Regions from separate parts of the Homo sapiens genome. Here all the other regions are linked to region 1. The links come from fine-mapping of genetic effects on gene expression. A gene starts in region 1. Each other region holds a variant in brackets. All regions are shown on one strand. Distances are from middle to middle.

Region 1 (5,076 bases):
TCACTAGAAGATGATGATATTTATGAAATAACAAAGTCTACCAATCTAGGATAGCAGTTATCCCAATCTGGAGCCATGGCCAGGGCAAAGGCACTGCAGGATTTCTTGGTCAAAGTGGGGACTCTAGAGGGACAGGGTGCCAGGAGGAGCTCCGGGTCAAACCCCAGGTGGCCAGACAGCCGGGGAGTCCTTATACCTGTTAAGCCTTTGTTCTGCAACATCTCATCCCACAGGCTTTGATTATTGATGACTGTCTGCAAAGTGGAAGGCACTGTAAAAGGTATTCAAGCACTAGTGCACCAGATAAAGAATTGTTGATATGTCAGACCCACCTGTAACTGGACTTCTCGTTTTTTGCTTGCCATTTATCTACTATCATAGGAAAAAGAAAGAAAAATTTTTAAGTAGGAAATTTAAATAACATTTTCTTTATGCATGCAAATAACATCTTTTAAAACAATTTTTAATTTTTGTGGGTACATAGTAGGTGTATATATTTATGTATCTCTGTATTTATGTACTTAAATATTTGTGTATTTAAATCTGAGATATTTTGATACAGGCATGCCATGCATAATAATCACATCAGGGTAAATGGGGTATCCATCACCTCAAGCATTTATCCTTTGTGTTACAAACAATCCAATTATACTCTTTTAGTTATTTTAAAATGTACAATTTAGATTTTTTGACTGCAGTCACCTGTTTGTGCTAGCAAATACTAGGTCTTATTCATTGTTCTTTTTTTTTTTTTTTTTTTTTGAGACATAGTCTCACTCTGTTGCCAGACTGGAGTGCAGTGGCACAATCTGGGCTCACTGCAACCTCCGTCTCCTGGGTTCAAGCGATTCTCCTGCCTCAGCCTCCAGAGTACCTGTGACTACAGGCACCCGCCACCACGGCGGGCTAATTTTTTTTGTATTTTTAGTAGATACAGAATTTCACCGTGTTAACCAGGATGGTCTCAACCTCCTGACCCGTGATCCTCCCACCTCAGCCTCCCAGAGTGCTGGGATTACAGTATTCATTCTTTCTAACTGCAAATAACATCTTAATGTACTAGTGAAAAATTTCCCCACTGTACATTGGATTATGCAGTGTCATCTTTGCTGGGGAGAGAGAAGCTAATGTCATGGAAGGACTATTGTATGCTAGGCTCTATGCTAAATGCTTATAGCTGCCACACTATCTTATCCTCCCAACAGTCCTGAAGCAAGGTAAGAATGTTAGGAGTTACACGTCGTCTGGTTTTTTTAAAGGTTTTGTTTTCCTGAAATATTAGAAAGTGTTTCCTATATTATCAATTGCAAACAAATGAACATGCCCGTGGATCTTTCTGGGGTCCCTCTTCAGATCTGGCTGCTCTAAGGATATTTAATCTTGAGAACAAGGCCACTAGTGTTTTCTGGGGCACGACATAAACTTCTCAAACTCCCTATTCAGTGGTATCAGGGGCGGTGTAGAACAGGGGTCAGTCAGCGTGCGGGCGATAGTGCACGCTAGCGTACAACAAAGGAAAAGCCACAAACAAGACTGTATTCCAGGAAAGGTGCTGGTTGCTCCGGCAAGCCTTACACAAAACAGGTCCTCCTCTAAGCTAGACTGGGACGTTTAAAGAAAAGGAAGGAACAGGCCCAGAGGATCTAAATCGGCTCCCTCGTTGTGGCCGTTTGAGCGGTGACCTCGGCGAAGTTCCATTCCAGTACCTAGGACCCTGGTAGGGCCCGAGGCTGAGGCTAGCAGGCCTCCTGCTGGGCTTTCTTCTCCAGCTGATTCAGCAAAAGGAAGAAGAGGGATTCCCTGCCTGTCTGGGAAGAAGAAGGGGGGCAATGTTTTGTCCAACCCATCTGCCCGTGAGACTTGAGCGGCGTCTCGAGGCCCCTGCTCCAGACAGCAGCTATACCTGGGCAGTGGGGACAAGACCAGGTGGCGCCTAAAATCCTCCACCTCTTCTGCCCACACAATGAAGGAACAACGAAGTCCTGGTTCCACCATCACAAGACTCTGTTCTTCAGCTGCCTCATCCCCAAACTCCCATCCCCCATCCTCCCATCCCTACGTTCCTCTATCCCCAGATGCGCACCAAGGTGCGCTTTCCCAAGTGCAGATTTGATCATATCTCTCCTCGCCTTTGAATCCTCCTGTGACTGGCCACGCTTTACAGCATAAAATGCATACACCTCAAATCGGAGCAGAAGGCTCTCTGCCAGCACCAGCCTTTTCTTTCTTTTTAACTTTGTCTTCATCTACCCTGGTTTGGTTCTTCTTGTTCTTCTTGTTCTTCTTCTTCTTCTTCTTCTTCTTCTTCTTCTTCTTCTTCTTCTTCTTCTTCTTCTTCTTCTTCTTGTTCTTCTTCTTCTTCTTCTTCTTCTTCTTCTTCTTCTTCCTTCTTCTTCTTCTTCTTCTTCTTCTTCTTCTTCTTCTTCTTCTTCTCTTCTTCTTCTTCTTCTTCTTCTTTCTTCTCTCTTCCTCTTCCTCTTCTTCTTCGTCTTCCTTCTTCTTTTCTTCTTCTTTTCTTCTTCTTCTTCTTTTCTTCTTCTTTTCTTCTTCTTCTTTCTTCTTCTTCCTTCTTCTTTTTCTTCTTCTTCTTTCTCTTCTTCTTCCTCTTCCTCTTCCTCTTCTTCCTCTCCCTCTTCCTCCTCCTCCTCCTCTTCCTCCTCTTCCTCCTCCTCCTCCTCCTCTTCTTCCTCCTCTTCCTCTTCTTCTTCTTCCTCTTCTTCTTCCTCTTCCTCTTCTTCCTCTTCCTCTTCCTCTTCTTTCTTCTTCTTCCTCTTCTTTCTTCTTCTTCTTCCTCTTCTTCTTCTTCTCCTTCTTTCTTCTTCTTCTTCCTCTTCCTCTTCTTCTCCTCCTCCTTCTCCTTCTCCTTCCTCTTCTCCTTCCTCTTCTCCTTCCACTTCTCCTTCCTCTTCTCCTTCCCCTTCCCCTCCTTCTCCTCCTCCTCCTCCGTCTCCTCCGTCTCCTCCATCTCCTTCATCTCCTTCTTCTTCTTCTTCTTCTCCTTCTCCTTCTCCTTCCTCTTCTCCTTCCTCTTCCCCTCCTTCTCCTCCTCCTCCGTCTCCTCCATCTCCTTCTCCTTCTCCTTCTTCTTTCTCCTTCTTCTTCTTCTTTCTTCTTCTTCTTTCTTCTTCTTCCTCTTCCTCTTCCTCTTCTTCTCCTCCTCCTCCTTCTCCTTCCTCTTCTCCTTCCACTTCTCCTTCCTCTTCTCCTTCCTCTTCTCCTTCCTCTTCCCCTCCTTCTCCTCCTCCTCCTCTGTCTCCTCTGTCTCCTCCGTCTCCTCCGTGTCCTTCGTCTCCTTCGTCTTCTTCTTCTTCTCCTTCTCCTTCCTCTTCTCCTTCCTCTTCTCCTTCCTCTTCCCCTCCTTCTCCTCCTCCTCCTCCGTCTCCTCCGTCTCCTCCGTCTCCTCCGTCTCCTTCTTCTTCTTCTTCTTCTTCTTCTTCTTCTTCTTCCTCTTCTTCTTCCTCTTCTTCTTCTTCCTCTTCTTTTTCTTTCTTTCTCTTTCGTTCTTTTTCTCTTTACTTTCCTTCCTCCCTCCCACTTGCAGCATCTGGAAATAATTTTTCACAATAGTTTCTGATTAATCCACAGGCTGAGATACAGAAAGCAACTGTAGAGTAGAGAGGGACACAATGAACCTTTTTGTAGGGATCCTCATCCCTGGAGTGGACCTAATAGATGAGCACGGCTACCTACAGAAGGATTTTTGACCAGGATCATATCCTATCAAGACAGGACATGTAGTACTCCTTCACTTCACCATCTGCAATTTTCTTTCCTTTTTTTTTTTTTATTATACTTTAAGTTCTGTGATACATGTGCAGAAAGTGCAGGTTTGTTACATAGATATACACATACCATGGTGGTTTGCTGCACCCATCAACCTGTCATCTACATTAGGTATTTCCCCTAATGCTATCCCTCCCCTAGCCCCCCACCCCCTGACAGGCCCCAGTGTGTGATGTTTCCCTCCCTATGCCCACGTGTTCTCATTGTTTAACTTCCACTTATGAGTGAGAACATGCGGTGTTTGGTTTTCTGTTCTTGTGTTAGTTTGCTGAGAATGATGGTTTCCAGCTTCATCCATGTCCCTGCAAAAAACATGAACTCGTCGTTTTTTATGGCTACATAGTATTCCATGGTATATATGTGCCACATTTTCTTTATCCAATCTATCGTTGATGGGCATTTGGGTTGGTTCCAAGTCTTTGCTATTGTGAATAGTGCTCCAATAAACATACATGTGCATGTGTCTTTATAATAGAATGATTTATAATCCTTTGGATATATACCCAGTACTGGGATTGCTGGGTCAAATGGTAACAAAAGCCAAAATTGACAAATGGGATCTAATTAAAGAGCCTCTGCACAGCCAAAGAAACTATCATCAGAGTAAACAGGCAACCTAGAGAATGGGGGAAAATTCTTGCAATCCATCTATCTGACAAAGGGCTAATATCCAGAATCTACAAGGAACTTAAACAAATTTACAAGAAAAAAACAAACAGCCCCATCCAAAAGTGGGCAAAGGATATGAACAGACACTTCTCAAAAGAAGATATTTGTGAGGCCAACAAACACATGAACAAAAGTTTTTCATCACTGGTCATTAGAGAAATGCAAATCGAAACCACAATGAGATACCATCTCACACTAGTTAGAATGGCGATCATTAAAAATAGTCAGGAAACAACAGATGCTGGAGAGGATGTGGAGAAATAGGAACGCTTTTACACGGTTGGTGGGAGTGTAATTATTTCAACCATTGTGGAAGACAGTGTGGCGATTCCTCAAGGGTCTAAAACCATCTGCTATTTTCAAAGAAGTTTTATGTATTTCCTATAATTGCTATTTCACCAGAGTCAGACTGTTAGTAAACTGACTTTTGATTCTTCTTTGATTCAACACAATAGTTCACATGGTGAAATGCTCATGCAAATATTTCAGGCAAATTCTTCATATAACACTTTGATGCAAGAAGTTTCAATGTATTCTCAAATTAGAACAAACATTTACCAGTGGCCAATACATGGAAGGAAGGTGTAATTAGTTTTTTTTGTTTTTTTGTTTTTTTACATCATT
Region 2 (5,076 bases), 250 kb after region 1:
TTTTTCCAATCCTAACTATATGAGTTGTATCTTTTAAAGGTCCAAATCTAACTTGGTATTTTTGAACTTCAATGTACAAGTGACATTTGCATAAGATCTTTTTAAAATTTACTATTTAAAAAAAAATTAAATAAAACCTGTTGCTATGGACTGAATTGTGCCATCCTAAAATTCATAAGTTGAATCCCTAATCTGCAATGTGATGGTATTTGGAGAAAAACGGATGGTAACTGGAGCCTTTGGGATCTAATTAGGTTTAGGTGAGGTCAGGAGGGTGGGGCTCTTATGATGGGATTAGTGGCCTTATAAGAAGAGACACCAGAGAGACTCCATCCATGATATTTTGTTATGGCAGACTGAGATGAGTAAGACATCTATGGAGGAATAATTTGTTCATCTTGATGTCTCCTCTCTTCCTCTTGGTGTCCCCTATGAAGTCTGAAAAAGCTAACTTGTTCACTTGGGGATTTTTGCTCTTCTGAGGCATAAATATCCTAAGTTTCATCAGGAGTCTTGAAACCCACCCCTTAATTTTCTATTTCTTTCTTTTCTATATTTTTAATGTGTGTGGCTTTTTAAGTATGCACCAACACATCTCCCCAGGATTATTTTTAATGCTTTTTAGTGACCTCAAGACTTTTTCTTTAAAAAGGCATTACCTTCTACAGGCAACAATAATTTATTGTACATTTCAAAAAAACTAAAACTGTATAACTGGATTGTTTGTAACACAAAGAAAAGGTAAATGCTTGAGGTGATGGATACTCTGTTTACCCTGATGTGGTTATTATGCGTTGCATGTCTGTGTCAAAGTATCTCATGTACCCCATAAATATATACAAAATATATACACCTACCATGTATCCACAAAAATTTAAAATTTAAAAAAATAAATAAATCAAATAAATAAAAAATAAAAAGAAATGATCTTAAGGTGACCAATTTGTCTTGGTTTGCCTAGAACTTTTCTAGTTTTAGCACAGAAAGCCCTACATGCCAGGGCACCCCTAGCTAGCCAGCAAGCAGGGATGGCTGGTCACCCTGCATGCCCTTCAAAACAAGCCTCCAAATGAGCCCCACACATATTTAGTGTTCCATGAATATGTGTGAATCCACAATTCTCCTCTATTTAGAAAGCCACATTTTTTTCTTTCTATTAAATAGTTCATCTTTTTCAAAGTACAACTCTCAATAATATATGTTGGTCCTGCTCAGCCTTTATTGTGATGCTGCTGCTGCTGAAAGGATGGTTGCTTACCAGCTATGGTGAGAAGTGTGAAAAGTGAGGCTCTCACCATGTCGTAGCTCCTGGCTCATGTGTTGTTGGTGATGAGATGTGCCTCAGCCAGGACATACCTCATCGGTGGCACAGGATGATTTCCAGCCAACCGATGCTACATCATAAATATGTGGATATGCAGAGGATTAAATCTCATACAGCTAGGATGCTGGTAGACTCCACATCCATAGTTACTCTCTGTAACAGGACCAGAGTGTCCCTGATGATAACATAACGGTGACCCCAGCAGGCTTTAGAGGCACCACAGGGTGGGGTCAGAACAAAGTTTAGTATGAGTTTAGTTTATAGTTTAGTTGCTTAGCTTAGTTTTATCTATACCAATGCACTCATTCACATTTTGTACCAAATTGTTGTTCCCCACTCTTGTGCCCTAGTTTGAACTAACATGTTCAGGGAGCATGTATCATGTTCTGGGATGCTATAGGTAGGAGTCAGCACACTTTTTCTATAAATAGCAAGATAGTGAGTATTTTAGGCTTTCTGGGCCATATGAGCTCTGTTACGACTATTGAACTCTGCCATTGTAAAGCCAAAACAGCCATAGGCAATACACAATGAATGGGTATGACTGTGTTCCAATAAAACTTTATTTATAAAAACAGGCAGCAAGCCAAATTTTGCCTGTGGGCTATAGCTTGCCAACTTGCAATCTAGTGAAACATAGTCAGATGCAGACTTCTGAAGCAAACAAATGTTAAAGTATTTTTGGGGATTGTAATAGAGAATCCAGTTTTATCCATCTTTAGACTGCTAAAGATTTCAAATCATTATTTAGAAAGCCATATTAGTATTTTTGGGGATTGTAATAGAGAATCCAGTTTTATTCATCTTTAGACTGCTAAAGGTTTCAAATCATTATTTGGAAAGCCACAATTAGATCTTGATCTAATTGTTCAACTTTGGGGGCCACTCCAGAAATTTCACCAACACATTGCCACACTTCTTGACCAGGGGCTTTTGGGAGCGTGAGTGCAGATCTTCTGAAGCTCATCTGGGTTAAAAAACAAAAAACTCTCTGCACTCTTTGAGTATATAAACTGGGCAGAGCCCATGTTAAAATCTTTTGCCAGGCTGGTGCAGTGGCTCATGCCTGTAATCCCAGTGCTTTGGAAGACCATGATGGGGGGATCACTTGAGGCCAGGAATTTAAGACTCCATCTCTACAAAACAATTTTTTTAGTTAGCCAGTTTTGTTAGCC[C/G]GTTTTGTGTTCCTATACGGGAATAACTGAGTCTAGGTAATTTATAAAGAAAAGAGGTTTATTTGACTCACAGTTCTGCTGGTTGGACAAGAAGCATGATGCTGGCATCGGTTCAGCTTCTGGTGAGGACTTGAGGAGCTTTTACTCATGGCAAAAAGGCAAGGGAAGCTGGTGTGTCACATGGTGACAGAGGGAGCAGAGAGAGAGGAGGAGGTTGTGGGCTCTTTTAAACAACCGGCTTTCATGTGAACTAACAGAGTGAGAACTCACTCATTACCATGAGGACAGCGCAATGCCACTGGTAAGGGATCTGCTCCCATGACCCAAACCTGCCCACTAGGCCCCCCTCCAACACTGGGGATCACATTTCAACATAAGATTTGAAGGGGACAAGCATTCAAACTGTATCACTGGGAGTGGTGGTGTGAGCCTATAGTCCTAGCTACTTGGGAGGCTGAGGTAGGAGGATTCCTTGAGCCCTGGAATTTGAGGTTGAAGTGAGTCATGATCACACCACTGCACATTCCAGCCTGGGCAACAGAGTGAGACCCTGTCTCTTAAAAATACGTATATTTAGCCAGAATAAACATCTCATCTAAATGTTGCTCTAACACTTTTCAAATTTTGCCTTTAACTTAAAGGTTCTCATTTCTTCAACTGTTACATAGTGGGCCTTGCCAATTGTTCTCATGTCTGGTGCCATGCACAAAAATGTTCCAAGCCTCTTTGGAATTTGCCTCAATAACATCTAGGGACCTGGGAGGGTTGACTAGGAGGCTGAGTGTTTGTAGCCAATCATAAAATCTTGAAGGCCACTTGATATGGTTTGACCATGTCCCCACCCAAATCTCATCTTAAATTGTAGCTCCCCAAATTCCCACATGTTGTAGGAAGAACCCAGTGGAAGATAATTGAATCATGGGGGTGGTTTTCCCCATACTGTTCTCATGGTAGTGAACAAGTCTCACAAGATCTGTTGATTTTACAAGAGGTTTCCCCTTTTGATTGGCTCTGATTCTCTCTTGCCCAGCACCATGTAAGACATGCCTTTTGCTTTGCTTTCTGCCATGATTGTAAGGCTTCCCCAGCCACTTGGAACTGTGAGTCCATTAAACCGCTTTTTCTTTATAAATTACCCAGTCTCGGGTATGTCTTCATCACCAGTATGAAAACAGACTAATACAACACTTAAACTCACCCATTTTAAGTGTCAGGGTCTTGGTAAATCATTCAACAGTCTCTACCTTAACTGAATCATTGTGAACAAAATGGACTCATTATATAAAGGCTTTTTAAAACTCACACTTTTTGAAATGTTGAAACCTACTCTCTGTTCAATTTCTCATCCCTTTCCCCAAAATGTTCCAAAATAAAAGAGACCTCCATTTTGGCTGCCAGTGGCTCCCCCAAAATAATAAATTTCTTTTAATAGTAACTTCCTTTTAACATGTGCCACAGTTATGTTAGAAAACTTTGTCATAAAAATAAGCATCTTTATTCACATAAGTTAACTCTAGGGGAAAAGCACCTATTTATCACATGAAGGAAGGTTTTTTCAGACAAGACCCATCTTGGGGACATGTCCAGACAAGCTGCAATGCAGTCGCTTTGGTCAGGTGGCTCCCTGGGGATGTCTACTCTGCCACAGCTCTGCTTTAATGATCTTGCAGAATGCTCCCATAACATCTGCCAAAACATCAAACTGAGCTGTGAAATTGTTGCAAACTCCTGTACGAGTTTGTCTATAAACAGTCCAGATTTGCTATCATAAAATTAACAGCTTCCCTAGTAAAACACAACATCTGCATCAGCCCCAGCAGAGCAGGTATTTTGAGTTTGCCTCCTCCTCCTCACTAGGTGCCAGGTAAAGCAGTTCTGAGCCCCAGATTATATGGCCATCCACCAGAAGGTATTTAGAAATGACCTGCTCAACCATGGTGAGCAGGAGATGGTGGAGGCTGATGGTCCATTCACACTGTCAACCATACCTAGGTTCTTACTTTCTTGGTCAGCCATAAAACCTTAGCATAGAAAAGGAAATGACATGAAACAAATGAATTCCTACAAAAAGTTAAGCCAACCCTATTAATATATAAAACCCACCTCAACTGGAGTTTCCTGCACACCAGCTTTACTGATACATCAAAGCCCCAGATAATAATTTGTTGCACAGTCAGGGGCCAACCTCTTGAAACCATATCGGCCTACTTTTCCTTCTGCAGTGAGTTCTGGGAGACTTTTTCTTTCTGTCTCTTAGACCACTAACTCATCTTTACCCAAGGCAACTACCCTATCTAATCTACCTATTGTTTGTTTTTAATTGACCAGAATTCTGTCTCATTCTTGACAAGTTATGAGCCCTCTTTTGTAAATATTTTCTGTTGCATCCCCCATTAACTCTGCTTCCTCACATAGTTCTTGTGTTTTCATAATATTGGTGACTCTGTTTACATTAGTAGTTTTCTAAAAATTTTTGGAGATTTTGGACTGTATGCTGCTATTTTAAGTTGATGGTTTAGTTGACCACAAATGTACTTTCATTATCCAAAGAGAATTCCTATTCACCTGTGTGTGACT
Region 3 (5,076 bases), 20 kb after region 1:
GTGACTTTCACATTTGGTGCGAAGCTTGAAAACATACTCTTTTCTTTACTCACTGGCACATCTGAGCACACACATTAACCCTTCCTCACCTGAGACAAATTGTAAAGAATCTACATGCGCCTCCATATATGCGCACCTCTTCCCTCCCCTTCTACCCTCTGCCATTGCAGTCAGGGAAGACAGTGGCTAAGATGTGCAGTGTGTTACCTTTCCCATGAGTACTTGCATTTTTAAACTTCCATTTTCATTTTGGTAGAGACAATGCGTGCTTCCCTACATATGCTCTCATTTCCTTCTCGGTCATGCTGGTAAGTCTGCAATGCTAGTTCCTGACAGGCAAGGTCATGTGATGTAGTCTAGCCAGTGGCCTGTGACTAGAAATGGCACCTTCAGTTTCTAGCAGGGGGTCTGCCACCGCCACATTCTCTTTTCTTTACTACCCTTAATAATCACAAGACAGAAGGAGCCTGGATCTTTGAGTCACTGGCTCGAGCTAGCCCTAGTTAACCTGCATGGGCCTTTGTGTGACGGACAAATCAACCATCAGTGTGCTACGCCACTGGGATTTGGCAATTTATTTGTTCCTCAACATATTCTTATTAATTCCTTCTAATACATTTACATAAAGAAATATGTGTTCATCAGAGACAAATCAAAATAAGAAAAAAATCAGTACTTTGCTGTTCAATATATCCTCACACGTTTTTCTATAAGTGTATCCATACAAGTCAGAACCAATTGTATCCGTAATAATTCCATGTTGCTGCATGTTACACAAAACCCAAGTAAGAATGGTTTAAAAGCATAGTGGCTTAATTTTCTCTCGGTGAAAAGAAGTGTGAATGTAGGCAGTTTGAGAATGGAGTATCATCCACAAAATATCATCAAAATCCTGCCTGCTCAAGCATTTTCTCCTCAGGGTTGTGTGGCCTCAGTGACTTTACCTGTGATTAAGTATCCAGGAAAATAAAATCAGTATGGCATGGTATCACCTGGGGTAGGCATTGACAACAGCTGCTTGGAGTACCAAGGATCAGAATAGGCTTCCTGAAGAAAGTGGTGTTGAAATGACTCCCGTTGTGTTCCCCCACAGAGGGAGCCTGTGCGATGACCCTGTCGTGAGAGGGGCCAGCCCACTTTGGGAAGCTGTGAGGAGCTCGGTGTCGCTGCAGCTGGGTACAAGGTCAGCAGGAGGCAGATCTGGAGGAGCCTGGGAGAGGTATGAAGAACTGGGTATACAGCCTGAGGGCAAGCAAAACCACCGCAGCCTTCTACTGAGCAAAGTGACTGCTCATTTTTACATTTTAGAAACCCTACTCTGACTGGGACTGGAGAATGGGTTGAAGGAGAGAGGACAGGATGGAAAAACAGAAAAACTGGGGGAATCAAAGTGAGATGGGTGGTCTGCTGCAAGACTGAAGGAAAAACAGAAGAAAGTATATGGATCCACAAGAGGATTAGGAGGTACCTGACAACACATTTACACCAGTAAAACTATTTAAACCTGCACATCAAATTAGATATCTTTATGTCTTAATAGATTAAATATTTTTCCTATTACTCATCACTTCTGCATGTTATAATGCTTAAACAAAACCAAAAATGGGTCGAGTGTGGTAGCACACGCTTGTAATCCCAGCACTTTGGGTAGGCTGAGGTGGGTGGGTCACTTGAGCCCAGGAGCCAGGAGTTTAAGACCAGCCTGGGAAAAATAGTGAGACCCTGATTCTACCAAAAAAAAAAAAAAAAAAAAAAGTTAAAAAACAACAAAAACGTTAACTCAGATTATGATCTGATTAAATATATAAATATATGCTATTTTTTACTTGTTGCGTCTTATTTATTACGTACTAGTTCAGAACTTCATGGCTTTCTCCAAATATTAATGTTATTAATATTTAAATGCTTAAACAAATATTAATGTTATTAATATTTAGTGAGAAATGTAATTGAAATATGATTTCATTGTTTTTGAAATCTTGATTTAATATTGTGTGATGGAGTGATTCAAATGCCTGCTTCTAAGTTTTAAATTTATTTCAATGCTGAAAATACTTTCTCACAAGAAAATGCCATTTAAAACAAAAGATATTTATCTTTCAGTATCTTCCAAAAATTATGAAAAGACTTTTGTTACAATTACTCTGTAACTTTTCAACATCCTAAAAAATCTAAATTGCTTTTTCTACCAAATAAATGGGAGGGGTTTGCATTTGACAAATGACTTAAAAATGTAACTTTTGGGGAAATTTTTTAACACAATAGAAAATTTGTGATGCTAAGGTATTTTAAGGGTGTAATTGTGAGCGGGTTTATAAGTCATGCTCATTTTCACTATTAAGCCATGTTAATTATAGAAAAATTTCAAATATTGGTTTTCATACATTTCCACCTCCTCACCATGAGTTATTTCAAAAAGCAGTAATTTTTTCACTGTTTCAAAACATCACTTTAATCTTGGGGGAATAGATAATGATGATAATTTTTTCAAATATACCTCTTAGATAGCAAAATTTAGACAGCCACGTGTCCTCAAATTTAAAACATTTTATTTTTACAAAATAAAAATGAACTTTGCCATGAGATAACCAGTAAATAATATTCTGTAACCATTGGTTTGCGAGTTGTTTTGGAGTGGACATACCAGTTTATCAGCATTGCTCAGGAATAATAACTGGATTTAGACCTATACCACCTGGTTTTGCTGGAGCCCAGGGATAAGGAGGGAGAGGGAGCTTAATGGTCAAGGCTGACCAATAGCTGGGATGTTCCTATGTGACCAGCTCCTTGTAGGAGACACTCAACAAACCTTGAGCTTCCTGGTACCTTTGCATATGTGTGGTGGTTGAAAAACCAGAGACAAAGTGTGTCCGTGCGAACTGGAAACAGGAGGACGAAAAGCCATTGAGGACACTACTGATGATGCATATGATAACCATTAATAAATTAGCACTATCTTTTCTCATATTTCAGATAAGAAAATCAACAAAAATATACATGTATTTTTCTTTGTG[T/C]AGCCTCATAGGTTTATATTGCACACCCCAGGCAAGGCGTACACAACACATTGGAGACTACTGGATATGAAAGATACTTAGGAAATACCTGGGCTGGAGATATAGATGTGTTGATAATCAGCACATTAGGGGAATAGAAGCAGAGGAGATGGCCAAGAAATTTGTGTAGTTTGAGAAAGTGAGGGTCCAGGAGGATACGCTAGGAACATCAACTTTCAGGAACAGGTCATGAAAGTAAAGCTGATGAAGGAAAATGAGGAGGAACAGCCAAAAAGGCAGGAGAAGAACCAAGAAGTGATGTCATAAAAATCAAAGAATGAGATGCTGCTGAGGCAGCAATACTATTGCCAAGTGTTACAGAGTGGCCAAATAAAACAAGATCTGGCCAAATAAAATGTCACTCACGTGGACTGAGCAACAAAGATGCCAGTGGTGATCATAAGAGTGTCTTCAGTAGCGTGGTCTGGGAAAGTCCCTTGAGAGACTATAAAGACAGGAGGTGGAGACAGAATCAGCAACTATTTCCAGAAGCGTAAGGGTGAAGAAATGGAAACAGAGAAGAGACAGTTGCCCAAAAAATGTGAGTGCTGGAGGGCTCGTTTTTCTTTTTTAAACAAGGAGGAAGAAGTTTGACTATAATACTATATTTAAATGCTGATTTTTAACAGTCAGGAGAGTAGAAGTTGAAGAAATAGAAGATGGGAGGTGCAGGTGAAGAAAATACGTCAGATGAGAGGAGGGGCGCTTCCTCTAGCATGACCGAAAGAAAAAATACAGCCTTTCCATATATTGTTTTTCTCCATTTTATGTATTTAAATAGCTTATATTTTCAATAACTTTTCTAGCGTCTTTATGCAAATTATTTCTATTACAAGCATCTTTGAGGATCCCTGTGGTGCAAAAATGTTACCATTTTAAAAATCCATATCCATTGGCCGTGACTTTATCCAGTCAATCTGTAATCACAACTATTTAAAAATTTGTATGAAATGCAAGAAAAAATAACAAAGGATTAAAGCATCCAGTTTATGCTCATGTAAACAGTCCGCAGTAAAAGTAACACATCTCATTTGTAGTTGTTCACGCAAAATAATTTCAGGCTTCATTGGAGAGAAATCTACATATCACTGCCTGTTAAGCTCCTTTCTTATCGTATATATGTGTGCATGTGTGTATCTATAGATAGATATACACACACATGTATATACACACATACATGTATATGTAAGATATGTATATACATATATAAGATAAAAAAGACAGCTCTTATAATACACATGTATATAATATATATTCTGTGATGTTATACATGTTATATATTATGTATTTTTATCAGAGGTGACTTTATCAAACTTTCATTTTATGTTTATACTATTTCAATGGCAACACTAATGTCACTAGTAGAAAATGGTCAACTGGGATTGGTTCAGGTATGAGTTCAGATTTCAACCTTTTTTTCTGTTTTCTAAAGGGAAAAATGTTAGGAAATTGCTCAGCTTATTTCTTCATTCATTTATTCCCTGGCAAATATTTATTGAACAGCAAGGCATTATTCTAGAGCATGAGGACACAGAGAGAAGTATAATTTAGTTTTCTCTCTTTATGATTTCCCTGTCTGGTACTATGTCATAGCTTGCCAAATGACAGTCACTGCAATAGAGGCACAGGTAAGATGACAGGGGAGTTGGTTAAGAGGAGTCTCATAATCAGTCTGGAGATAGAAAAGGAGCATCCTGAAATCCTGGCATATGAGTTCTTGCAACAGATGCATAGGAGTAATTAATCACTCCCGCCACTGTCCATAAAGGACTAGAGGTAAGACTAGAACACAATAAGGTGGAGCTGAGCATGGAGCATAGAGGGAGGAAGATGGAGATAAAGGGATTTTGGGGGAAGGGACTTCAAGGTGCAGCAGGAAGTAAGTGTAGTCACAGGGATGGGAGAGCCAGATGTATGGAGGTGCCTGTGGATTTGATGCTTTACCTGATGTGAGGAATTCATGTGAGGGCATGACAAGCCTGGAAAGGCAAGCTTGGCTGCAGCATAGGGAGTGCAATAAGCC
Region 4 (5,076 bases), 42 kb after region 1:
TGTTTTGGTACCAGTACCATGCTGTTTTGGTTACTGTAGCCTTGTAGTATAGTTTGAAGTCAGGTAGCGTGATGCCTCCAGCTTTGATCTTTTGGCTTAGGATTGACTTGGCAATGCAGGCTCTTTTTTGGTTCCATATGAACTTTAAAGTAGTTTTTTCCAATTCTGTGAAGAAAGTCATTGGTAGTTTGATGGGGATGGCATTGAATCTATAAATTACCTTGGGCAGTATGGCCATTTTCACGATATTGATTCTTCCTACCCATGAGCATGGAATGTTCTTCCATTTGTTTGTATCCTCTTTTATTTCCTTGAGCAGTGGTTTGTAGTTCTCCTTGAAGAGGTCCTTCATGTCCCTTGTAAGTTGGATTCCTAGGTATTTTATTCTCTTTGAAGCAATTGTGAATGGGTGTTCACTCATGATTTGGCTCTCTGTTTGTCGTTATTGGTGTGTAAGAATGCTTGTGATTTTTGTACATTGATTTTGTATCCTGAGACTTTGCTGAAGTTGCTTATCAGCTTAAGGAGATTTTGGGCTGAGACAATGGGGTTTTCTAGATATACAATCATGTCGTCTGCAAACAGGGACAATTTGACTTCCTCTTTTCCTAATTGAATACCCTTTATTTCCTTCTCCTGCCTGATTGCCCTGGCCAGAACTTCCAACACTATGTTGAATAGTAGTGGTGAGAGAGGGCATCCCTGTCTTGTGCCAGTTTTCAAAGGGAATGCTTCCAGTTTTTGCCCATTCAGTATGATATTGGAAAGTCAACAAGGATACCCAGGAATTGAACTCAGCTCTGCACCAAGCGGACCTAATAGACATCTACAGAACTCTCCACCCCAAATCAACAGAATATACATTTTTTTCAGCACCACACCACACCTATTCCAAAATTGACCACATAGTTGGAAGTAAAGCTCTCCTCAGCAAATGTAAAAGAACAGAAATTATAACAAACTATCTCTCAGACCACAGTGCAATCAAACTAGAACTCAGGATTAAGAAACTCACTCAAAACCGCTCAACTACATGGAAACTGAACAACCTGCTCCTGAATGACTACTGGGTACATAATGAAATGAAGGCAGAAATAAAGATGTTCTTTGAAACCAATGAGAACAAAGACACAACATACCAGAATCTCTGGGACACATTCAAAGCAGTGTGTAGAGGGAAATTTATAGCACTAAATGCCCACAAGAGAAAGCAGGAAAGATCCAAAATTGACACCCTAACATCACAATTAAAAGAACTAGAAAAGCAAGAGCAAACACATTCAAAAGCTTGCAGAAGGCAAGAAATAACTAAAATCAGAGCAGAACTGAAGGAAATAGATGCAAAAAACCCTTCAAAAAATTAATGAATCCAGGAGCTGTTTTTTTGAAAGGATCAACAAAATTGATAGACCGCTAGCAAGACTAATAAAGAAAAAAAGAGAGAAGAATCAAATAGACGCAGTAAAAAATGATAAAGGGGATATCACCACCAATCCCACAGAAATACAAACTACCATCAGAGAATACTACAAACACCTCCATGCAAATAAACTGGAAAATCTAGAAGAAATGGATAAATTCCTAGACAAATACACTCTCCCAAGACTAAACCAGGAAGAAGTTGAATCTCTGAATAGGCCAATAACAGGAGCTGAAATTGTGGCAATAATCAATAGCTTACCAACGAAAAAGAGTCCAGGACCAGATGGATTCACAGCCGAATTCTACCAGAGGTACAAGGAGGAACTGGTACCTTCCTTCTGAAACTATTCCAATCAATAGAAAAAGAGGGAATCCTCCCTAACTCATTTTATGAGGCCAGCATCATCCTGATACCAAAGCCGGGCAGAGACAGAACTGAAAAAGAGAATTTTAAACCAATATCCTTGATGAACATTGATGCAAAAATCCTCAATAAAATACTGGCAAAC[C/T]GAATCCAGCAGCACATCAAAAAGCTTATCCACCATGATCAAGTGGGCTTCATCCCTGGGATGCAAGGCTGGTTCAATATACGCAAATCAATAAATGTAATCCAGCATATAAACAGAACCAAAGACAAAAACCACATGATTATCTCAATAGATGCAGAAAAGGCCTTTGACAATATTCAACAACCCCTCATGCTAAAAACTCTCAATAAATTAGGTATTGATGGGACGTATCTCAAAATAATAAGAGCTATCTATGAGTCCTGTTTCTTTATCCAATTTGCCAGTCTGCCTTTGAAGTGAGGTGTTTAGCCTGTTTACATTCAAGGTTAATATTGATGTGTGCTGATTTGATCCTGTCATCATGTTCTTGGTTGTTAGGTAGACTTGATTGTGTAGTTGCTTTACAGTGTAAATAGTCTATGTACTTAAGTATGTTTTTGTGGTGGCCATTAGTGGTCTTTCACTTCCATATTTAGCACTCCCTTAAGCAACTCTTGTAAGGCGGGTCTAGTGGTAACTAATTCCCTTAGCATTTGCTTATCTGAAAAAGATTTTATTTCTCGTTCACTTATGAAGCTTAGTTTGGCTGGATATGAAATTCTTGCTTGGAATTTCTTTTCTTTAAGAATGCTGAATATAGGCCCCCAATCTCTTCTGACTTGTAGGGTTTCTGCTGAAAGGTCTATTGTTAATGTTGTGGGGTTCCCTTTATAGTTAACCTGCCCCTTCTTTCTAGCTGCCTTAACATAATTTCTTTTGCATTGACCTTGAAGAATCTGATGACTATGTGTCTTGGGGATGTTTGTCTTGTAAAGTAGCTCACAGAGGTTCTCTGAATTTCCTGAATTTGAATGTTGACTTATCTAGTGAGGTTGGAGACATTTTTGTGGATAATATCCTCAAATTTGTTTTCTATGTTGCTTGGTCTCTCTCTCTCTCTCTTTCAGGGGTGCCAATGTGTTGTAGGTTTGGTCTCTATACACAGTCCCACATTCCTCAAAGGTTTTGTTCATTTTAAAAATTCTTTGTTGTTTTATTTTTGTCTGACTAAAATAGTTTGAAATTAAAATAATTTGAAGAACTGTGCTTTGAGCTCTGAGATTCATTTCTCAGCTTGGTCTATTCCACTGTTAATACTTCTGATTGTGTCATGAAATTCTTTTAGTGAGTTTCTCAGCCCTATCAGATCAGTTTTGTTCTTTCTTAAAATACCTATTTTGCCTTTCACCTCTTGAATCACTTTACTGGATTTCTTAGATTCCTTGGATTGAGTTTCAATTTTCTCCTGAATCTCAATGATCTTCAATGCTATCCAGATTCTTAATTCTATGTCTGTCATTTTAGCCATTTCATTCTGGTTGAGAACCATCACTGGTGAAGCGGCATCATTGTCTGGGGTAAATAACCAAGGTTCATCATCTCATGCCAAGGAAATCAAGTATGCATATGCAAGAGGTAGGTTTAGGGGCGGAGGTTTAACAGGCAAAAGAAAGAAAAAGGAGAACACTTCTCTCTCCTGCTTTAGAGAGGGGTGCCCAAATGGGACTTCTGGCCCACAGTGGAGTGCTCAGGATTTTATAAAAAAGCTTGAGGAGGCGGTGTCTGATTTACATAGGACCCAAAGATTGATTAGACTAGGGTGACATTTACATAGCATGTGAGGAAGCTGGCTTCCCCACCCTAATCTTATTATGCAAATGGGATATTTGCCCTGTCAGCGCCATGTTGTCTTCGCCTTACTGTACATATGGTTTGGCAAAGAAAAGGAAAGAAGGAGCTGACATTTTGAACATGCCTAGTCCCCAGGTAGCTCCTTTCCTACTGGCATAGCTGCCATCACTTCCCCGTGCAAACTTCTAGCTTGCCTTTCTATGTCTGCAGCTCGATTTTACAGGTTGCTCTTTGTTAGAAAAGAAAATGATTTGGGGGCTGCTTTTCATTAAAAGGAAAACCTTACTAAAGACTTTCTTACCTCACTGTCTGCCTAAGTAATTTCTTTTTAACTCCTACATCATTGAGGAGCTAGTGTGGTCATTTGGGAATAAGAAAACACTCTGGCTTTTAGAGTTCCCTGCGTTTTTGCTCATCTGTGTGGGCTGATGTGCCTTTAACTGTGGTGTAATTTGAGTACAGTCAGTTGAATTTGTTTCTGGATGTTTTCAGAGGGCTGATGCTTTGTGCAGGGTCTTTATTTGTGGCTGAATTCTTGTCCTTAATTTTATGGGGAGGTATGTTAGCAATGTATTTTTGGTGTTAAAGTTTGGGCTTCCATCCAGTAGATGGCACTTAACCGTAATGGCTGGTAGATAGGCTCTTACCCAGCCACATGGTTCCTCTGTATTTCCTCAATTGCAGCTATGCTCTCTCTCAGTGCTCTGAGAGTGTGGGCCCCTCTCCCACTCAAGTGTTGGCCATATATCTCAGCTTGGCACTCCCAGGCTGTGCACTGTAGCCCCTTTGTGAACTCAAGCTTTTTGTTCTCTCCCTAGCTTGGGGGTGGCAGGGGTGGGGACCTTGACAGTGGCAATGGCAGAGGGCCTTTCACTTGTCTTTGAAGGATTCACCCCAGAGAAGCACAGAGCTGCTACCAATCAAAATGATCAGCTGGGGGTGGGGCAGCTGCATTGTGGGCCTCAAGCCAGGCGGCCCTTCCCGGTGAAGAGCTGGAGGATTGGAGGCTTGCTGTAAAATCAGTCTGGCCTCTTCTCCATAGAGCAGCTGTGGCATGGAGGTGTGAATAAAGCACTCGGGCTCTTTGTTCCTTGCCCAGTCTGGTGGCAGCAAGGGTGGGCATCCACTGCAGTGGCAGTTATAGGGGGCTGTCAGTTGCCTCGGGGAACTCCACCCCAGAAAGACATGGAGCTGCTGCCAATGAGAACATTCAGGTGGAAGTAGGATGGCTGTGCTGCAGGTCCAAGCCAGGGGATGAAGAGCAGAGAGGTCAGGGGCTCACCAGGAAGACAGACTGGACTCCTTTGAATATGGTGGCTTCAGTGTGCTGGAGGTACAAGCAAAACAATCAGTGTCTTCATTCACTCCACAGCACAGTTTGTTTAAAATAATAATAGCAACTATGCATTCAATTATGTATACTTATGTGTATATCTTATGCATATATGTCTATCTGTGCTTATATATGCTTACA
Region 5 (5,076 bases), 300 kb after region 1:
TGCAAAGCCTGCCTCAGGAAAGCAGCCTTATTTAAAAAGAACTATATGAACGCTACTGCCTTTGTGTTTTCCTGGGTCACTAGCCTAGGCGACCACAATTGAGAAAATGTAAAGAAGTCTACCCCCAGCTCATTTTCCCAACCTGGTTATCTACCCAACTATCATTTGTATTCTTGACTCAGCCCTCCCGCTGACAGCTCTATTCAGCCACCTTAGCTTCTATTCAGTCTCTTGGACCCAGATCTCAAATCCCCTTTGGGGCCTTTCTTTGTTCATTCCTACTACAGGGTCGAGGACCTGTTCTGGATCTACTCTGTTCCTGGAATCTCTGCTTTCCATGCATTGTCTGCAATGTTTGGCCTCCTGTGAACAGGACTCAATGACCTCTGTCCCTTGCATCACTTTGCCACCCCAAACGTGCACAGCCAGTGTGAAAACCTTCAGGAACAGAATCCTTGCCCTGTCACTTCCTCCACAGTCCCAACTCTCACAGAAGTTTCTTGTCAGAGAGGCAAGTTCCAATTCTTCACTTTGGGGGAAGCCAGTGCTCTCTCTGCCTTGTTTCTGTAAGGTCCTCTGAACAGGCTACACAATGGTTGAGCCATTGTGACTCCTGTGACCCACACATACAGGCCTCCTGCAGTCACAAAGCCTGGAGCAACAAGAGAAGCACTAAAGGAGAAGAAACAGCTAGTTCCTGCCTTAACTGATTAACCAACCTTGCAACAATCCACCAATGTGATATATTCCTGCCCTACCCTAAATAATCAATTGACCCCGTGATATCGTGCATTGTGACCTCCTCCCACCTTGTGACTATGCACCCTGTGACATTCTTCCCCTGCCCAAAAAAACTGCCCCTAACTATAACTTTCCACTACTTACCCCAAACCTATAAAACCAGTTCCCCTCCCACCACCCTTCGCTGACTCCTTTCTCGGACTCAGCCCACTTCCACCCAAGTGAATAAACAGCCTTGTTGCTCACATTTAGCCTGTTCAGGTTGTCTCTTCAATTAGACATGTGCATAACAATTTCTAGAACTTTGGATCATCAGAAAGAACCGTGGAAACACCACTGGTCTAAGACCAACCAGAGCCCTCCTGATTCTGAGCAAGACAACCTTGGAGTCTTTTGTTTGCAATAAACTGCAAACTTCAGAACTATAATAAGAAATAGAGACTTATTCAAGGTTCTCACTCTCCCATGCCCTATTAAAGGAAGTACCAGGAAATATTTAAATAGCACCTGCACCCCTGGATTGAGGCTTCTTCAGCTGCAGAGCCATCTAACTCCAGAGATGCTAGAGCACCGATTAGAGCCACCAAAACTCTGTGAGTCATCAGAACAACTCATACCAGGGCAGGGCACCCGTCTCTGCACTCTTATTATTTCATTCAGGCCAAAAGTTACAGTCATAATCTTGTCTTATCAGATTTGGGACACTCTGGAACAAATGTCATCCTAATTTTGGTAGAAACATAAAAGCAAGTAAGCATGATTTATAAACAAAGGGCTTTCAGCCTAGGATTTGCAAAAGTTCTCCTTCACTTTTATAATTTAGTCTATCTACAGAGGGACATTTAGACCTTATTGAACCTTTCCAAAAATTCTGCAACTAAGAGTCACAGCCTGTTAATCCTATCTGCTTTCTTGGAGTCAGGGGGTCTCTTATAACCACTACATGCCAGCAGGTGCTGTTCTAGGAAAATCTGCCTTCTTTGAGGAGCCTCTTCCCCCATACCGTGCTCTCACATGTACACCCCTGTAGTCTATCTCAGTGACTGGTGACCTCTTCCTCCTGGGCCAGAGTCCTTCCCCCCGGGTGGTATAAATAAAGCTCAGAAGAGACAGCTCTTCCCTCTCCTGAGATAAGATTCGAAAACTTTGAGTTCAGAACCACCAGCTTCCCCTGTGTCACAGGGCAAACCCCAAAATTGGGGTCAGCCCAGGAAGCCAAGTGGGTCCTTAGCTATATGCAGGAAAGAATTCAAGAGCAAGCCAACTGAGTAAAGTGAATACACATTTATTAAGAAAGTAATGCAATAAAAACGTGCCTACTCCATAGGCAAGGCAGCCTTGAGGGCTGCTGGTTGGCTATTTTTATGATTTATTTCTTGATCATACGCTAAACAAAGTGTGGATTATTCATGAGTTTTCCGGGTAATTTATTGGGGGTGGGGA[T/G]TGGGGTGCCAGGTTGCCATGGCATTTGTAAACCCTCATGGCACTGGTGGGAGTGCCTTTTTGCCTGCTAGTGTGTTATAATTAGCATATAATGAGCAGCAAGGGTAACCAGAGGCCACTTCTGTTGCCTTCTTGGTTTTGGTAGGTTTTGCTCAGCTTCTCTACTGCATCCTGTTTTATTGGAGGGGTCTTGTGTCCTGTGTCTTGGGAAACCAGTGCCGCCAAACTCCTCTCTCTCACCTGTGCCCACTGCATATCCCCAGTTTACCTGCAGGAGGAGAGAATGAACACAACACAAACAAGAGCAGTGGAGGTTGAGTGACCCTGCGGGTGCCCGAGGTTTCGGCATGAGAAGTTCTCAGAAGAGCCCTGGGCACAGCCTTCCCCAGGTTCTGCTTTTAGGTGCTGTTTTTCTATTCTGATGGTGGTGTTGACTTTCTAAACCACCCTGATCATTCCAATAAATCTTTTCATGTTTAGACGGACTCAAGCTGGTTTTCTATTACCTGGAACTCAAAGAATCCTAACTAACAAATGGCCCATAATTTATCTTCATCATTCAAATAATTACTATGTGCCAAGTATTACATCAGACCTTGAGGAAATGTGGATAAATAGGTTGGCCTCTGCCCTTAAGGCATTCAGAATCCAGAGGAAAGAGGCATGGAGTAGCACTCCTTTCCCTGAGTTCCCAGTTCCTGGACTTCCCACCTTGCATGCCAATGAGTTGTGCACGGGACACTCCACCCCACTCTGTCCCCCGGGGGCAGTGGCTGCCCTTTTTGCCCCTTAAATTCCCATTACCTATGGCAATCATAAAGACCCTATGAAGCCTTGTTATGGGAATAAGTGAAATGCAGTAATAACAGTAATGCTGCTTTATGGTTTTCAAAGCGCTTTCAGATAAATCATCTCAAATGTCAAGAATATGCAGTTTCAGGGATCTTTATAGCACAAAATTGACGTTTTCTGGGCATCAGAGCCAAATAAAAACAACATTCAACTTCCTTCCTTTTCTTATCTAATCTTAATTTGGCTTTCTAAATAGGCTTCCTGCCTATGAAAAGAATGGGCTGATGGTGGGGAGCTGGGGAGCAGGAAGGGTGATAAAGGTACCTGGGTAACTTGGTCACATTTTCTGAAAATCAAATGAATTGGTTTCTGCTGAAGAGAAATGTCAGGGCCTCAGGTACCCAAAGGCCTGATCCTCTGTGAAAGAAAATACCATCTCGTGATCCCAGACTCACTACACCAAAGGGAAAGTTAAGCTTGGACAATAGAAGGCCACATACCTCCCCAATGGCCTCCTGCAGAAATTGCTCACAAGGAAATTCCCTGTGAGCCCCTAAATCTTTTAGGACAGCAGTCCCCCAGCCTTTTTGGCACCAGGGACCAGTTTCCTGGAAGACAATTTTTCCACGGATTGGGGCAAGGGGGAGGCATGGTTTTGGGATGAAACTCTTCGCCTCAGATCATCAGTCATTAGTTAGATTCTCATAAGGAGTACATAACCTAGATCCCTCACATGCGCAGTTCACAATAGGGTCCGTGCTCCTATGAGAATCTAATGCCACTGCCGATCGGCCAGGAGGTGAAGCTCAGGCGGTAATGCTCCCTGGCCCACAGCGCACCTCCTGCTGTGTGGCCCGGTTCCTAATAGGCCACCGAATGGCACCCGTCCATGGACTGGTGGCTGGGGACCAACCCCTGCTTTAGTATATATATCACCCCATAAACTAACCCTAAAACCAAATTCTGTTGAATTACTTTCTGACAATGTCAATTGCTTGTTTAATTTCACAGGACAAGGACAAGACCAGAAATCATCCCTCTGTCTACCCTGAGATGAATGTATAACTGGCTTTTCCCTCTATTCCCTCTTTTCACATGTTTGCTTTAGCTTTTTGTTTGTTTGTTTTTGAGACAGGGTCTTGCTCTGTCACCCAGGCTGGAGGACAGTGGTAAAATCATAGTTCACCGCAGCCTTGATCTCCTGAGCTCAAGGGATCCTCCTGCCTCAGCCTCCCAAGTAGCTGAGATTACAGCCATGTACCACTGTGCCTGACTAATTTTTTTTATTTTTTAACACTCAGGGTCTTGCTTTGTTGCCCAGACTGCTCTCAAACTCCTGGGCTTAAGTGATTCTCCCACCTGGGCCTCCTAAAGTGCTGGGATCACAGGTGTGAGCCACTGCACTGGACATTCACTTTATGTTGTGTAAAGTGTACGATTTACTGAGTGGAAGACGATATATAATTGACTTTTTCTCTAGCCCCTCTTTTCACATGTAAACTGTAGATTTACTGAGCCTAATCAGAGCCTCCCAAGAATGTAACCACCTGCCTCCTCTTCCTTTTTTTTCTTTCCTGCTTATTGTTTCCCCTTTACTGATGTTCCCAAAACCACCTTTGGAAAAAGCACAGGTCACAGATGCTCCTGTGACTTGTATTTTTTCCCAGGCACATCCTTAACCTTGGCTAAATAAACCTCTATCTATTGAGATCTGCCTCAGTCACTTTTTGGTTAATAGCCCCAAGAGTGAGCTGGCAACCAAAGTTCAGGGTCTGCAAAGCCAAAGCCTCATTCATTCAACTCATTCAATCCACGAGCTCTATTGCATGCCAATTTATACCAAGCACTATGGTAATGCTCATGACTATACCCACTCTCATCAGGATTTTACCACTGAGTACAGTGGTTCTTGAATTGACCTGTGCCCTGGAATCACCTAGACAGCTTTTAGAAATACTAATCCCTGGATCCCACACCCAGAGACTAATTTATTTAGTCTGAAATCTGATCTGGATAGCAGGAGATTTTAAATGTCCCCAGGCAACTCTAATGTGTGGCCCAGGTTGAGGCCACTGGTCTCGAAGAGGAAGATGAAAAAGC
Region 6 (5,076 bases), 310 kb after region 1:
TATGGTGAGAATTAAAAACGAGACATTTAATCCTAGATACTGCCAAGCACCTAGTATGGTAGTTCTAATCATTACTCAAAATATAGTCAAAATGTAATTAACAACGCCTGTACAACTTACAAAATCAGATTAGCTGGAGTGTGGGGGTGAAGGGAATACAGTTTATCACACAGTCCTCCAACCCCTTCTCTGTTATTTGCCTTTTTGTATCTTGGGTCCCATGATAGTTTTCCTCTGCTCCTTTCCTCAACATTTGATTCTAATTTACTTGTAGCGTTTTCCCCTAGGGAAATGTCCTATTCAAGAATAAGAAAAGCATCAGGAGTTACCATGAATTCCTACTGGGATACCTTGCTTAATTAGAAGACACCACTGTAAATCCATTACTTCCCTTGCCCTTTACTAGCTGACCTTGGACAAATAATTTTCTCATACTTTTTTTTCCTCTGTAAAATGGAAACAACAGCAGCTATCTCATAGGGTCATTGTAGAGGCTTCGACAGAATATTGTATATGGCCCCTTGAATATTGTAAATTGGAGTCTTCTGCCTCAGAATCCCCCCATCAATGTCCCTTTGCTCAATTGCATCAAATAGGCATTATCCTTGGGAGTAAACAGACCAAGCTAACAATGAATTCTAGCCTTATTTCTTCTTTTTCTTTTTCAAACTTGAAATGCTCACTCCTATTTTCTCAACTTTTCTCCAAATTGTAGCAGCCCAAAGAACTGTTATTGGAAAAGCTGTATCAAATATAATGTTTTTGAGCTGTTCTTTTTTAACAACAGGTCTAAATGGGAGAATTTCAAATTTCTAAGGAAGTCAGCATTTTAGCCACTCAGAGTTGGATGGGAATGGCTCTCAAGAAATGGAGGCATATAAAAAAGAATGAGATCCTGTCATTTACGACAACTTAGATGGAACTGGAGAACATGATGTTAAGTGAAATAAGCTAAGCACAGAAAGATAAATGTCACATGTTCTCACTCATGGGCAGGAGCTAAGAGAAAAACATAAGTTGAATTCATAAAGAGTAGAATGATGGTTACCAGAGGCTGAGAAAGATAGCAGAGAGGGGAAGACAAGGTGGGGAATGTTAATGGGTACAAAAATACAGTTAAGACGGAATGAATAAGGTCTGGTATTCAGTAGCACAATAGGGCAACTATAGTTAACAATAACTTATTATATATTGTAAAATAACTAAAAAAGTAGATAATATGGTTTGGCTGTGTCCCCACCCAAATCTCATCTTGAATTATAGCTCCCATAATCCCTATGCCTCATGGGAGGGACCTGGTGGGATGTAACTGAATCACGAGGGCAGGTTTTTCCTGTGCTCTTCTCATGACAGTGAATAATTCTCACAAGTTCTGATGGTTTTATAAAAGGACAGTTCCCCTGCACACATTCTCTTGCCTGCCACCATGTAATACATGACTTTGCTCTTCCTTCGCCTTCCGCCACAACTGTGAGGCCTTGCCAGCCATGTGGAACTGTGAATCAATTAAACCTCTTTCTTTTATAAATTACCCAGTATCAGGTATGTCTTTATTAGCAGCATGAGAACAGACTAATAGAGTGAAATTGGAATCTTCCTAACACAAAGAAATGGTAAACACTTGTAGTGATGGACATTTCAATTACCCTGATTTGATCATTACACATTGTATGACTGTATCAAAACATCACATGTACCCCATAAATATATACAACCATTATATGCCCATAATAATTAAAAATAAAATGTAAATGATTAAAAGAATTTCTTAATTTATTTATATATATTACTTTTATAATGTATAAAAGTAATAATTACAATAATTGTTAAAAATAAATGGAGGTGTTAGGAACAATACTCTGGCAGGATCACAATGAGGTCTGGAGAGGAGCTCTTTCTTTCCCCTTTGGAACTCAAATCACCCCAATCCAATAATCAAAAGCAAAATTGCCAACATATGTTTTGTTTTCCATCACATGATGTTCAATTTGGGCCATGATAATATTTCTAAAATCCCATTTAATAGAAATTTTGTTTTATATGAGCTAACAGATGGATCCTGAAAGCTATGGAACAGAGTGGCTGTACAGTATGTCATAAGTCACACTGGTAGGGTGACAGGCTCCAGGTTTCTATGTGGCTTGGGAAGCTATTAAAAAATATGAAGAAAATCAGTTCAATATTAGGTGTTTTTAAAGTCAAAAAAATCCTGATTTGGAAATCTACAGGCTGTTCATCTTATTTTTTTTTTGACATGGGAAATGAAATGTTAAAATACCACTTGAATAGACAACCACCTTTCAATTATCTCATCCTCCATGGGCCCCAGTTTCCTTATCTATGAAATGAGGCTCGTTTTGGGTCAGAAGTGGCAGAGATTTCATTTTGTGTGCTATCCCTAACCCATGACAGCAGCTACTGAGGCCTGGACTGAGAGGTCTGAAGCTCTGTATCAGTCACGGTTCTCCAGTGAAACAGAACCAATAGAACGTGTGTGTGTGTGTGTGTGTGTGTGTGTGTGTGTGTGTGTGTGTGTGTGTGTGTGTGATTTCTTATAACGTATTGATTACAGAGTCTGAGAAGTCCCAGGATCTGCTATTTGCACTCTGGAAACCCAGGAATTCCAGTGCTGTGTTTTCTGGAAACCCAGGAATTCCAGCACTGTGTTTTGAAGGCCTGAGAGGTGGAGAGCCAATAGTGTAGATTTCAGTCTGAGTTCGAAGGCCTGAGAACTAGGAGCAGGCGGTAGACTGATGTACAACTCAAGCAGTCAGACAGAGAGAGGGTGAATCCAACCTTCCTTCACCCTCTTGTTCTATCCATGCCCTCAATGAACTGGATGAGGCCCACCCACACTGGGAAGTCTGCTTTCCCCAGCATACCAATTCCAATGCTCATCAGACATCTGGGCATCCTGTGGCCCCATCAAGTTGACACAAAATTAACCATCATAGATAGGCTCTGTCTGAACTGGTGTCACAGTAGATAATTA[G/A]TATCTGTTAGGAGTCTAGGGCAGAGTCAGTTAGAGTTGTGTCAATCATTTGTAACACATGTGAATTAGATGGTCACTGATGTCCTTTGCTTTCTCCGTAGGTATTGAGTCTGATTTGCCTACCACAAGATGAAGGGCACACGTGGAGGGGGAGAAGCAGAAGATCAGATTGGAAAGCCCGAGAGTCATCTGGAGGTGCCCTAAGAGTGTAGCTTTGGATAACAGACATCCTGAAAGCTGGCTTGCCTGCCACTGAACACCACATGCAAATTCAAGCCCAGTGAATATGTGTGGTCTCAACTGAAACCAAAAAAAAAAGTTTTTTAAAAACCAATACAGATTTAGGCCCTCACAATTCTCTCAGCAACTGTAATGGGTTGAATGGTGGTCCCCAACATTATGTCCATTTCCTAACCCCTGGAACCTGTGACTGTGACCTTCTTTCAAAAAAAGGGTCCTTGCAGAAGTAATGAAGAGATCAGATCATTCTGGGTTACCCAGGTGGGCACTGAATTTAATGACGAGTACCTTTGTAACAGACAGAAGAGGAGAAGACACATGAGGAGGAGGAGGGACTGTGGCCACTGAGGCACACTGGAGCCATGCATCCAGGGAAGCCGAGGCATGCTGACATGCACTAGAAGCTGTCAGAGGCAAGGGAGGGTTCTACCCTAGAGCATTAGGAGGGAGTGAGACCCTGCCAATAATCTCATCTTTCAATTCTGGCCTTCATAACTGTTTTAAGCCATCAAGATGGAGGTAACTTTTATGGCTGCTGGAGGAAACTAACACAGCAGCCTACAAAGGCAGCAGAGCAGCTCAAGCTTGGCCACAGGAGGAGTCAGGCCTTGTGCATAGGACATGGGCTCAGATCCCTACCACCCTTCCCAACTCCCCTGCTCTGCAGATCCCCTCCTTACACAGGATCCCCCAAGTAATCAGCACCCCCTGCCTGCCTTCCTTTGGGCCTTGCCCCTCATCTGCGCCATCTCCGCCCTCAGACAGCCTCACCCAGGCTGCTCCTTGGGCCTACCTTGACCTCGGCCAAGTTCTCTAGTCCAATTCAGCTGCCAGGCTAGTCATTAATCATAATTCTATTTGCGCAGGATGCACATGGCCATGTCGGAGAGTCTGCCAAGCTATGCTCCTTCTCCTTTATTACCCAAGTGACAACTTGCAACTGCACACACAACCCTGCCAGCACTTGGCAGCTGAGGAATGGAGCAGGAGAGGCAGGGAGCACGCCAGCAAGTAAGTGCCCTGGAATAATGTCCGACAAAGAACCTTTCCTCTTCACACCGCAGGGTGAATTTGGAATTTGGTTAACAATCATTTATTGTATGTGGTCCAACGCTGGAAGAGAGGATTTTGAATGTTCCCAACACAAAGAAAGGATCGATGTTTGAGCTGATGGATACGCTAATTACCTATTTGATCACTAAACATCATATGCATGTATGGAAATACTCTGTACCCCATAAGTATGTATAATTATTAGGTGTCAACTAAACATATAAAAAAAGAAACTTTCCTCTCCCAACTTGCAACAGATAATGCACAAAAGGGGTCATTTCTTAAATGTCATCTTTATAGCCTCTGAATTTCAATCCACAGGAAGAGCATTCACAGTAACAACAAGTGGTAGAAACCATTCACATCTTCAGACGCTGTTGCCCCTATCCTATCTTGTTCTAATGATGTATACTGCTTGCACACACCAAGGAAATCTAAAATTCATCATATAGCCAACCATATCCCCTACCTTGAAACTGGTACATTCCACCTCCACTTCTCATTTCATCCACAGCCATTTCTTTACATTGAGACCTCACCTGGAAAAATAGAACCAGCTGTCTTGTAAGCTGGGTCTTCCCCCACTGTCACAGAACATGGCAAGGGACTAAGATGTCATCTGGCTCCTGTGTTATGATGAGAAATGTGAGGGAAAAAAACTAGGCCAAAAATTCTGCTTGCTAGGTATTATGAAACAATACTGTATATTACTAGAGTCTACTCTTGGCCATGTGTGTCAAGAGTAGTGATGTAGACCAATACTTAAAATCTGGGAGACACCAGTTTTTTGT

Direction of the effects. Alleles are on the strand shown, and positions count from the first base shown. SD is a standard deviation of normalised expression in the study named. Not every link is listed here.
In carriers of allele T in region 3, the expression in neutrophils of the gene that starts at base 2,035 in region 1 tends to be lower than with C alone (moderate effect, 0.44 SD a copy in BLUEPRINT).

What was found. PIP is the estimated chance that this variant, and not a neighbour inherited with it, causes the effect.
Region 2: its variant is the best candidate, but not a certain one, in a credible set for the expression of NME8 in whole blood (INTERVAL, PIP 0.76).
Region 3: its variant is the best candidate, but not a certain one, in a credible set for the expression of NME8 in neutrophils (BLUEPRINT, PIP 0.51).
Region 4: its variant is the best candidate, but not a certain one, in a credible set for the expression of NME8 in whole blood (TOPMed, PIP 0.55).
Region 5: its variant is the best candidate, but not a certain one, in a credible set for the expression of NME8 in whole blood (TOPMed, PIP 0.54).
Region 6: its variant is the best candidate, but not a certain one, in a credible set for the expression of NME8 in whole blood (INTERVAL, PIP 0.57).

What each region holds. Positions count from the first base shown.
Region 1 is chr7:37,845,556-37,850,631 of GRCh38, reverse strand. NME8 (NME/NM23 family member 8) reads right to left here and starts at 2,035. Exons shown (of 18, transcript NM_016616.5): 1 at 1,904-2,035; 2 at 1,576-1,808; 3 at 333-372; 4 at 197-254; 5 at 1-3. The coding sequence starts at 365.
Region 2 is chr7:37,591,596-37,596,671 of GRCh38, reverse strand. No RefSeq gene overlaps it. Among named protein-coding and RNA genes, the nearest start is that of GPR141, 90 kb to the left of the region's middle. The variant C/G (reference allele first, on the strand shown) is at 2,500.
Region 3 is chr7:37,825,389-37,830,464 of GRCh38, reverse strand. No RefSeq gene overlaps it. Among named protein-coding and RNA genes, the nearest start is that of NME8, 21 kb to the left of the region's middle. The variant T/C (reference allele first, on the strand shown) is at 3,015.
Region 4 is chr7:37,803,648-37,808,723 of GRCh38, reverse strand. No RefSeq gene overlaps it. Among named protein-coding and RNA genes, the nearest start is that of NME8, 42 kb to the left of the region's middle. RefSeq lists an enhancer at 4,614-5,076. The variant C/T (reference allele first, on the strand shown) is at 1,932.
Region 5 is chr7:37,547,340-37,552,415 of GRCh38, reverse strand. No RefSeq gene overlaps it. Among named protein-coding and RNA genes, the nearest start is that of ELMO1, 100 kb to the right of the region's middle. The variant T/G (reference allele first, on the strand shown) is at 2,185.
Region 6 is chr7:37,540,193-37,545,268 of GRCh38, reverse strand. No RefSeq gene overlaps it. Among named protein-coding and RNA genes, the nearest start is that of ELMO1, 94 kb to the right of the region's middle. The variant G/A (reference allele first, on the strand shown) is at 2,993.